Homo sapiens: one gene and its partner. The protein of the gene in region 2 purifies or fractionates together with the protein of the main gene of each other region. This does not show direct contact. Each region holds a gene or a part of one and is shown on either strand. Other genes may lie near its edges.

What was found.
Region 1: the proteins of ZNF274 (region 2) and DDX50 purify together in Homo sapiens (co-immunoprecipitation; one large-scale study listed by IntAct). This does not show direct contact.

The regions. Positions count from the first base shown.
Region 1 is NC_000010.11:68,899,854-68,904,114, reverse strand, and holds the start of DDX50 (ATP-dependent RNA helicase DDX50), read right to left. Parts: upstream 2,801-4,261; 5' UTR 2,731-2,800; coding exon 2,644-2,730; intron 2,060-2,643; exon of another isoform or gene 1,689-2,059; intron 1-1,688. UniProt on the Homo sapiens protein: ATP-dependent RNA helicase that may play a role in various aspects of RNA metabolism including pre-mRNA splicing or ribosomal RNA production.
Region 2 is NC_000019.10:58,206,845-58,210,861, reverse strand, and holds part of ZNF274 (neurotrophin receptor-interacting factor homolog), read right to left. Parts: coding exon 3,660-4,017; intron 902-3,659; coding exon 789-901; exon of another isoform or gene 432-788; intron 1-431. UniProt on the Homo sapiens protein: Probable transcription repressor. Specifically binds to the 3'-end of zinc-finger coding genes and recruiting chromatin-modifying proteins such as SETDB1 and TRIM28/KAP1, leading to transcription repression.

The DNA of each region.
Region 1 (4,261 bases), on a different chromosome or scaffold from region 2:
TGGTGTGCAATGACGTGATCTTGGCTCACTGCAACCTCTGCCTCCTGGGTTCAAGCAATTCTCCTGCCTTAGCATCCCGAGTAGCTGGGATTACAGGCGTCTGCCACCACGCCCAGCTAATTTTTTTTTTTTTTTTTCTGAGACGGAGTCTTGCTCTGTCACCCAGGCTGGAGTGCAATGGTGCGATCTCGGCTCACTGCAACCTCTGCCTCCCAGGTTCAAGCAATTCCTGTATCTCAGCCTCCCGAGTAGCTGGAATTACAGGCACGCGCCACCACACCCAGCTAATTTTTGGGTTTTTTGGGTTTTTTTTTTAAATGGAGTCTCGCTGTGTCACCCAGGCTGCAGTGCAGTGGTGCGATTTCAGCTCACTGCAACCTCAGCCTCCCGGGTTCATACGATTCTCTTACCTCAGCCTCCTGAGTAGCTGGGATTACAGGCATGTGCCACCATGCCCAGCTAATTTTTGTATTTTTAGTAAAGACGGAGTTTCACCATGTTGGCCAGGCTGGTCTCGAACTCCTGACCTTAGGTGATCCACCTGCCTCAGCCTCCAAAAATGCCGGCATTACAGACGTGAGCCACCGCACCTGGCCTTTTTTGGTATTTTTAGTAGAGATGGTGTTTCACCATGTTGGCCGGGATGGTCTCGATCTCCTGACCTCACGATCCACCCGCCTCAGCCTCCCAAAGTGCTGGGATTACAGGAGTGAGTCACCATGCCCGGCCCAATTTTTATATTTTTAGCAGAGATGGGATTTAACCATGTTGGCCAGGCTGGTCTTGAACTCCTGACCTCAGGTGATCTGCCTGCCTCAGCCTCCCAAAGTGCTGGGATTACAGGCATGAGCCACCGCACCCGGCTAATTTTTTTATTTTTTGTAGAGACAGGGTCTCTACAAAACTCTACCTAAACTTCTGGGCTCAAGCAATCCTCCCATCTCAGCGTCCCAAAGTGCTAGGATTACAGGCATGAGCCACTGCAGCTAGCCACCAGACCTGTATTCTAATGCTCTATTTCTTTTAGTTGGTATTCCAATTCGTTTCCAAATCTCTGGTTATCTTTCATAGTTAAAGGGCAGTCAATATGTATTTCTGGAGAATTTACAATGTGAAAGCCACCAATTTAAAACAACATAGTGAAACATAAGGATGGATAAAGATTTGGTCACTTTCCTCAAGAACTTTTGGGAAATATGTGGGATACATACAGGAAAAATGAACTAATTTTATATAGACATGCATAACAAATGTCAATCAAATGATGAAGATAGCCACTGAAACTAGATAACGGTACATTCGGGTTGTCAGGAAAGACATAAACTAGGCCTTGACCGCTGGACAGGATTGGGATGCAAAAGACAAGAATTTCAAAAGAAGCCTTTTTTAAAATACCTGCTTGGTTTTCTGCTTACACTCTAGGTAACTTCAGTAGTCAAATTCACAGAGCGAAAGTAGAATGGTAGTTGCCGGGAGTGGAAGGAGAGAGGAATGAGAAGTGAGTGTTTAATGGGCACAGAGTTTCAGTCTGGGACAATGAAAAGTTCTGGAGATGGATGATGGTGACAGCTGCAAAACGATGTAAATATACTTAATGTCACAGAGCTATATACTTAAAAATGGTTAAAATGATAAACGTTATGTGTATTTTAGCACAATAAAAGTGTTAGCTGAAATGGCAAGTTTACCTTAGTGATAAGGTCAGAGAGGTAGATTCTGCTTTCTAAGGCTATACAAAATAAGTCTCATTCTTTTGTCGAATGTCAGCCTTCGAATACTGCCACCTTAGCCTCTTCAGCTGATTTCTTTTTTCCAGGTCAAATGTCTCCAGTAATAATTTTACCTGGGCATTTTTTCAGCACCTTGTGATCCTCTGAGTGTTTCAGGATGTTTTTTCTTTTCCTTTTTTTTTTTTTTTTTTTTTGGAGGGCAGGGGGCTGGGAGGAGGAAAGACTACAACTCCTCTACAGGCTCCTTGAGAGCAGAGACCATTTCTTTACTTATTTAGTTTAACCTCCTTGGTACTCAGCAAAGAGTATGGTACAAATTAGGTTCAATAAACACCTGCGGATTGAATGAAAATACTGACAGTAAAGGCTATTAATAATGCAACCCACACGATCTCCATCACTGACAAATCCTGGCAAGTCTCAGTGACACTTTTCCTTAAGCCTCTACAGACTAGTTATTGAGGTCTGTAAACCTAAGATCGCTTTCCCCAGGATTCTTGCACAGGGGACGGGGTGACAGAAGCAACACATATTCAAAGCAATCATTTTTTCTTAATCATCTTCTAAGAGGGCCAATGAAAACGAAATGGCAAGCGTCACTGCTTCAGGAGAGAAAGAACAGATTCCATGGTGATGGGAGCTTGAGTCTGCCCATCTGAGATTCAGGCGCCAACGGGAAGGGCTGAGGGGCCACGCGGAGGAGAGGCCCAAAGCCCAGGGCCATCTTTCTCCAGGTCGGGAGGGTGGAGGTGGAAACGGTCCCTGAGCGACCCCAGAGGGCCGAGGGCGGCGCGAAGGGAGGCCCTCGGATGCTCCGGCCCGGTTCTGACAGGCCATCATCAGGGACAGACAGTTCCCCTCCCCGCCCAAGCCGGCGCAGCCCAAAAGGAGGCGCGGCCCATGCTCAGCGCACCTTTTGCCTCTCCTTCTTCTGGCTCTCGGACTCCTCCAAGGGTGCTTCCAGCTCCATAATGTCCCCCCAGAGGAGTTTCCCAGGCATTACTGGCCACCGCCGCCTCCCTCCGGGCACAGTGGCCACAACCACCTACGGGCAGCGACAGCGTGAAAGGAAGCGGGGGCAAGGCGGCCGCCCGGCCTTGGCCATGCGTCACTTCCGGGACACGCACCGCACGGCGGGGAAAAATAATCCCGGATACTCTCGGTTTAAGACCTTCCATTGCGCCGCAACCTCTCAACCAATGAGTGTGAGAGATATCAACGGGCCCGCCCTTGTTCTGAAGTGATTGGTTACTAGAGTAAAACCCTGGCCAATCTCCATAAAGGAAGCATGCACTGATTAACATAAATAGTTCGGTTTATCTTCCCCTCCCCCACTCCGAACGGGTCTCCTCGGCCTCGCAGAGCCTTTTGGGGGCTTCCCAGTACGCACTGCTAGGGCTGGGAAGCCCTTCAACGGCGGTAGACAGGGTCCGGCGCGCGCTGGGCGGGTGCGTGGGCAGGCCCATGCCGAGGCCAGTGGGCAACGCCGCGCGCCGCCTCGCCATTTGCAGCCGGAAGCTGAAGCCCTCCATCCCGCCCATTGCGGGGGAGATGTTAACGACCAACAGCTTCGCGCGAGGCCACAGGCCTGGCGTCGGTGGAGAGGGGCTTCGCGCAGTTTGGGGTGGGCCAGATGGGCCGGAGGTGTAGCCAGGAACGGACAGATGTCCGTCTCTTAAGTCTTAGGTTTTAATCGTGAAGCTGATCCCTGGTTCATTGTGATCCTTCTCACGCTGTCCATTTGACATAAGAAACCCGAGAAAGGAATGTACTTGTCTGAAGTCCCACAGTCTGTTAGTGGCACAGTCAGGACTAGAGAATTTAGCTCCTGAAGCCGAGATCAATGCTCTTTCTGCCACATCAGCCTGAGAACTTTGAGTTTTGCAGTGTTTTGGGGAAGATGCTCCCGTGAAACAATGAACAGGAAAAACCTGAAGAAGCCTCACATTTTCTGCTAGCGAGAAAAGCCAAAATGTCTTCCACAGATTATCTATTTGCAATGAATAAAAAAGGATTTAATTTTAGTGATGGAGATTAACTGCCCGTGAATCACCACCTTACACAAAACTGAAACCTTTGACAATACAAAGGGTAACTTCCTTAGTGTTTCTATACCTTTGCTTACTATCACCGAGGCTAGTTGGCTTTTCACAGCCATTTCTTCATCTCTTCATGATCCTTGCGACCCAGCTACTCTACCCAATGGAGACACAGGGCTACTCTCACAAACCACTTGATAACGTCTAGCACACCAGCCTTAAAACCTAAGCATCAAACTGTGTCCTAGCAAAATTACAAATTGTTACATGTCGTGGAGTTTGGGAATTGGTCCTGAATAGCTGGAACCACAAATGTTAAATCTGTGATTGCTTCAAGCCTTCTGCATAACTACGGCTTGGCCTGAAGGCAAGGGCTGTATGTTTGCATGTAACTTTATGGATTCAATACTTAGAAACACAAGGAGTGTTCAGCTATTGATGACGGAGAAATCCACCTCTCTTCCTAGGTTATGAGAATAGCTATGCATCTCT
Region 2 (4,017 bases):
CTGTCTGTAATCCCAGCTACTCAGGAGGCTGAGACAGGAGAATCACTTGAACCTGGGAGGCAGAGGTTGCAGTGAGCTGAGATCGCGCCATTGCACTCCAGCCTGGGCAACAAGAGTGAAACTCCATCTCAAAAAAAAAGAAGAAGAAAGGGGAGAAAGCAGAGCCATGAAACAGGTTGGCCAGAGATTCTTCCCATCACCTGGGAGCACCTGGATGCAGCCTTGCCTGAAGCCTACCAGAGAATACATGAGAGCCAATAAATTGACTTCTACGCTTGAGCCAGTATAAGCCATTTGCAGTGCAAACAGGTCTGACCAATGACACATACATACCACTACCCCAGTGGTCAGCGCATCAGGACCAATCTTTTTCACCCACACCCCAGCTCTGGGTTATTCTGAAGCAAATCCCAGATACCAAAGATAAATACCTAAGTATGCATTTCTGAAGGTTGAGGGCTCTCTTGTTCTGACCTGGATACAGATGTGCCTGCCTGTGGTAGTTCCACCTCTCAAGTCTCTGTAAACACTTAGTCCCTTCCCTCTTGCCTCCTGCTTTCTCAGCTCCCGGGTCACCATGCGTTGTCTCCAGTGATGCCACAGTGGCTGGAGGGCAGGGCTGCTCTTCATACTCAGATTGCTTCAGCACAGACCTAAGAGCTCAGAATCTCAGAATGTCCCAGCCTGTGGGAGGTCTTAGGAAAGCCCAGGGCAGAGTGGATGCCTCAGGGGTGGGCCTGCCTCACAGGAGATGCTGTGACCAAAACAGGGTGATACTCCCCGCTTACCTCAGGGAGCACTGTCACTGGGCAGATGGCTGCATCCTCCTGCTTCTCCTCCTGCTGGGCAGTGACCTCGAGGCAGCAGGTGGTGCCCTCGGCAGGTTGTCCTGCAGGAAGTACTGGGAGGAGACACCAGCCAGAGGAGGTCAGCAGGTGTGGGGACCCTTAGGCAGGGCAAGGGTGGCCTCTCTGCAACCCATGGGGCCACCGCACCCCTGCATCGTACTGTGGCTCCATGACAGCCTCTGCTCCTGTCCTCCCTTCCCACCAGCTCTGCTCCCCTCACAGCACGTGCCCGAGTGCCCACACCTGGATGGGCCCGGGATGGCTCACCCTCCAAGGGTCACAGGGCACCAGTGTCCTCACTGCTGAGACTCTGGTCCCACTCCTTCCCTTTCCGGGGGCTGCTGAGGGCCCCAGCCCCTCCTGTGAGGCAGCTGACTGACGCCCCCTCCTTAGAGTCAAAGCCCCTGTTTCCGGCCTCCAAGCCCTGCACCCTGCCTATTTGGGCACCTCTTCCTTCTTCCCTCTCTCCTCCCACCTCATGGAAGGTGAGACTTTCCCTGGACCCATGAAATGCAGCCATCTTGAGGTGAACGTCACCAAGTCTCCTCCACCTAAGAAAACAACAGCTCCACCTGGCCCAAGGGCCCCTGTAACCACGGCTCCTTCATTCTAACCTTCCTCACATGACCCCAAATGGTCCACAGGCTTCCACAATGCTAATCTACCCCCACCATCAAGGTGGGCCACAAGATGACTTAGGCTGGCACACTGGACCATCCCTTTCTCTTGGCCACAGTGATTAGATCTGGGATGAACACAGCCTATAGCCAGATGATTGGAGCCAACAAGGCCTTAGTTGGAACATTTGGGAAAGAGAAATCCCATGCAGGGAGACAGCCTGCCCATGATGAAGCCAGTGGAGGGCAGAAGAGGTAAGAATGAGGGACAGGACAAGTCTGGAGGACACTATTGGAGCTCCTGGGTCCAGCCCTGCCTGATGCTCGAGCACCCTGGAACTTTTCCAATAAATTCTCCTTCTCCCTTGAGCCATTCTGTGCAAGGCTTTGCAGCAGTCACACTCAAGCGTCCCAACTAACACACTGATCACATAATGTGAGATTCTCAGGGTTCTCTGGAAAGCCTCTTCCCATTGTCTTCTGTGGCACTAATTTATTTTATTCACCCCTGAGGTTAAACACAGGGTGAATTCACTGACTTTCACCTCATTAACCCCACAACTGTCTCCTTGGCACCTAACTAACTAGTTTCCTATTGCTGTTATAGTGAATTGCCACAATGCCAGCGGCTCAGATTAATGCAAATGTATTACCTTATGGTTCTGGAGATGAGAAGTCTGGTTTGTGCCTCACTGGGCTAAAATGAAGGTGTCAGCATGGCTATGTTCCTTTTGGAGGCTCCAAGGGAGAATCCATTCCTTGCCTTTTCCAGCTTCTAGAGGCTGCCCCAAACATTTGGCTTATGGCTTCTTCCTCTATCAGCTGCTCCTATCATTACATCTCCTCTGACCCTCCAGCCTCCCTCTCCTAAGGGCCCCTGTGGTTATGTTAGATCCACTCAAATAATCCAGTGCATCTCTCCCTCTCAAGATCCTTAATTGTTTCTGCAAAGTCCCCTTTGTCATGTGAGGCAACTTATTCACAGGGTCCAGGAGTCAGGACATGGACACCTTTGGGGCAATTATTCTGCCAAGTACAGCACCCCAGACTTGGTGCATCTGACACAACTCATGCAAGTGCCTGCCCTGCTGCCTCGGATACCCGATCTCCAGGATGCCCTGGCCTCTTAGAATCCCACCATCCCCCTGCAGGATACCTTCCCCTTTCCTGCAATCACAAACATCAACCAGTCAATCATTCGTTCACATCAGAAACATCTTCTGGGCACCCGTGAAATGTGGAAAATGGAGGTGAGCAATGCAGAAGCATGCACGCTCTGTGAAACTCAGCCTGATGAAGAAACCAAGTCTTGCAGTCTTATTCCCAAATACACACTCCACACGTGTAGTCTCTCCCCAGTCAGACATCACCATCACTCCTATCCAAGACACCACCCCATCAGAGGGCATGGCAATAGCTGCGGGTAGCCTGTGTCCAGCCTCGCCCCCATCCTCTGTCCACCATCCACCACACATGCAGCCTGGTAAATCTCTAAAGGTCAAATCCAGTGGTGCCACCAGTTTCTGGAACTCAGGGATCGAGCCCTACTGTTTTAGAAGAACATTTTGCTTTGCTTTAGGACTAAAGTCCCCACTGGCAGTGCCAGCTCCAACCTCTGCTCCCTTCCATCACAAACATAACCGATTTTTCTGAGTTTTGCATTTACTGTGATCCCTTCCATCTTGGCCCTTACAGGCAGTGCTCCCCTCTGCATGGCACATCTTTCCTGCCCCCTTTCTTTACCCTGGCCAAGTTCCACTCCACACCAGGTGTCAGCTGCAGACCTTCATAAGCCTCACCATCACCTCGAGCTCCTCATAGTCCCAGCATTTTTCTATGCATTCTCATTTGTCAAATCCCTGTCTCTCCTGCTACTGCGGGCTCTCTGAGCTCAGTATTCCCATCTATCTTATCAAGTGCTACAGGGCTTATGGTGCAGCAGGGATGCCAGAGGGATAAAAATGAAGCACTTCATCTGTGTGCTTCCATCAGAAGCCCACGAAGGGCTAAAGAATGCAAGGGTTTCAGTGGCTCTGACTCAGGAACACGTGGGCAACATGGATGTCCTTGGTCTGTATGGAGCGGACACAATCCTTCCCATGACCTTCCTAGGAAGCCTGGAGTTCTTATCTCCCCCACAGGGTACTCCAAGACACCCTCATTAAGCTGTCCCTCTACCCACCCTTCTACTTACCTTCCTCCTCAGACATCCAGGTCACACCCTCTACCAGGGCCACCACCTCTTGGCAGTTCTCTGGGTGCTGCGATTCCACCCATGTCCGGAGCTTCACAGGCAGTGCACCTAGGAACTGCTCCAGCACCAGCAGCTCCAGGATCTGCTCCTTGGAGCGTGCCTTAGGCTGTAGCCACTGGTGACACAGCTCTCGGAGCTGGTCCAGGGCCTCCCGGGGACCTGTCATGTCCTTATAACGGAACTGCCGGAACCTCTGGCGCGCGGCCTCAGGGTCACCTGGATGCTTGCCCTGCTGTTGGACCTGCTCACTGGGGGCATCTGCACTCAGGCTTCCATCTTCAGCATATAGGGCCTGGAT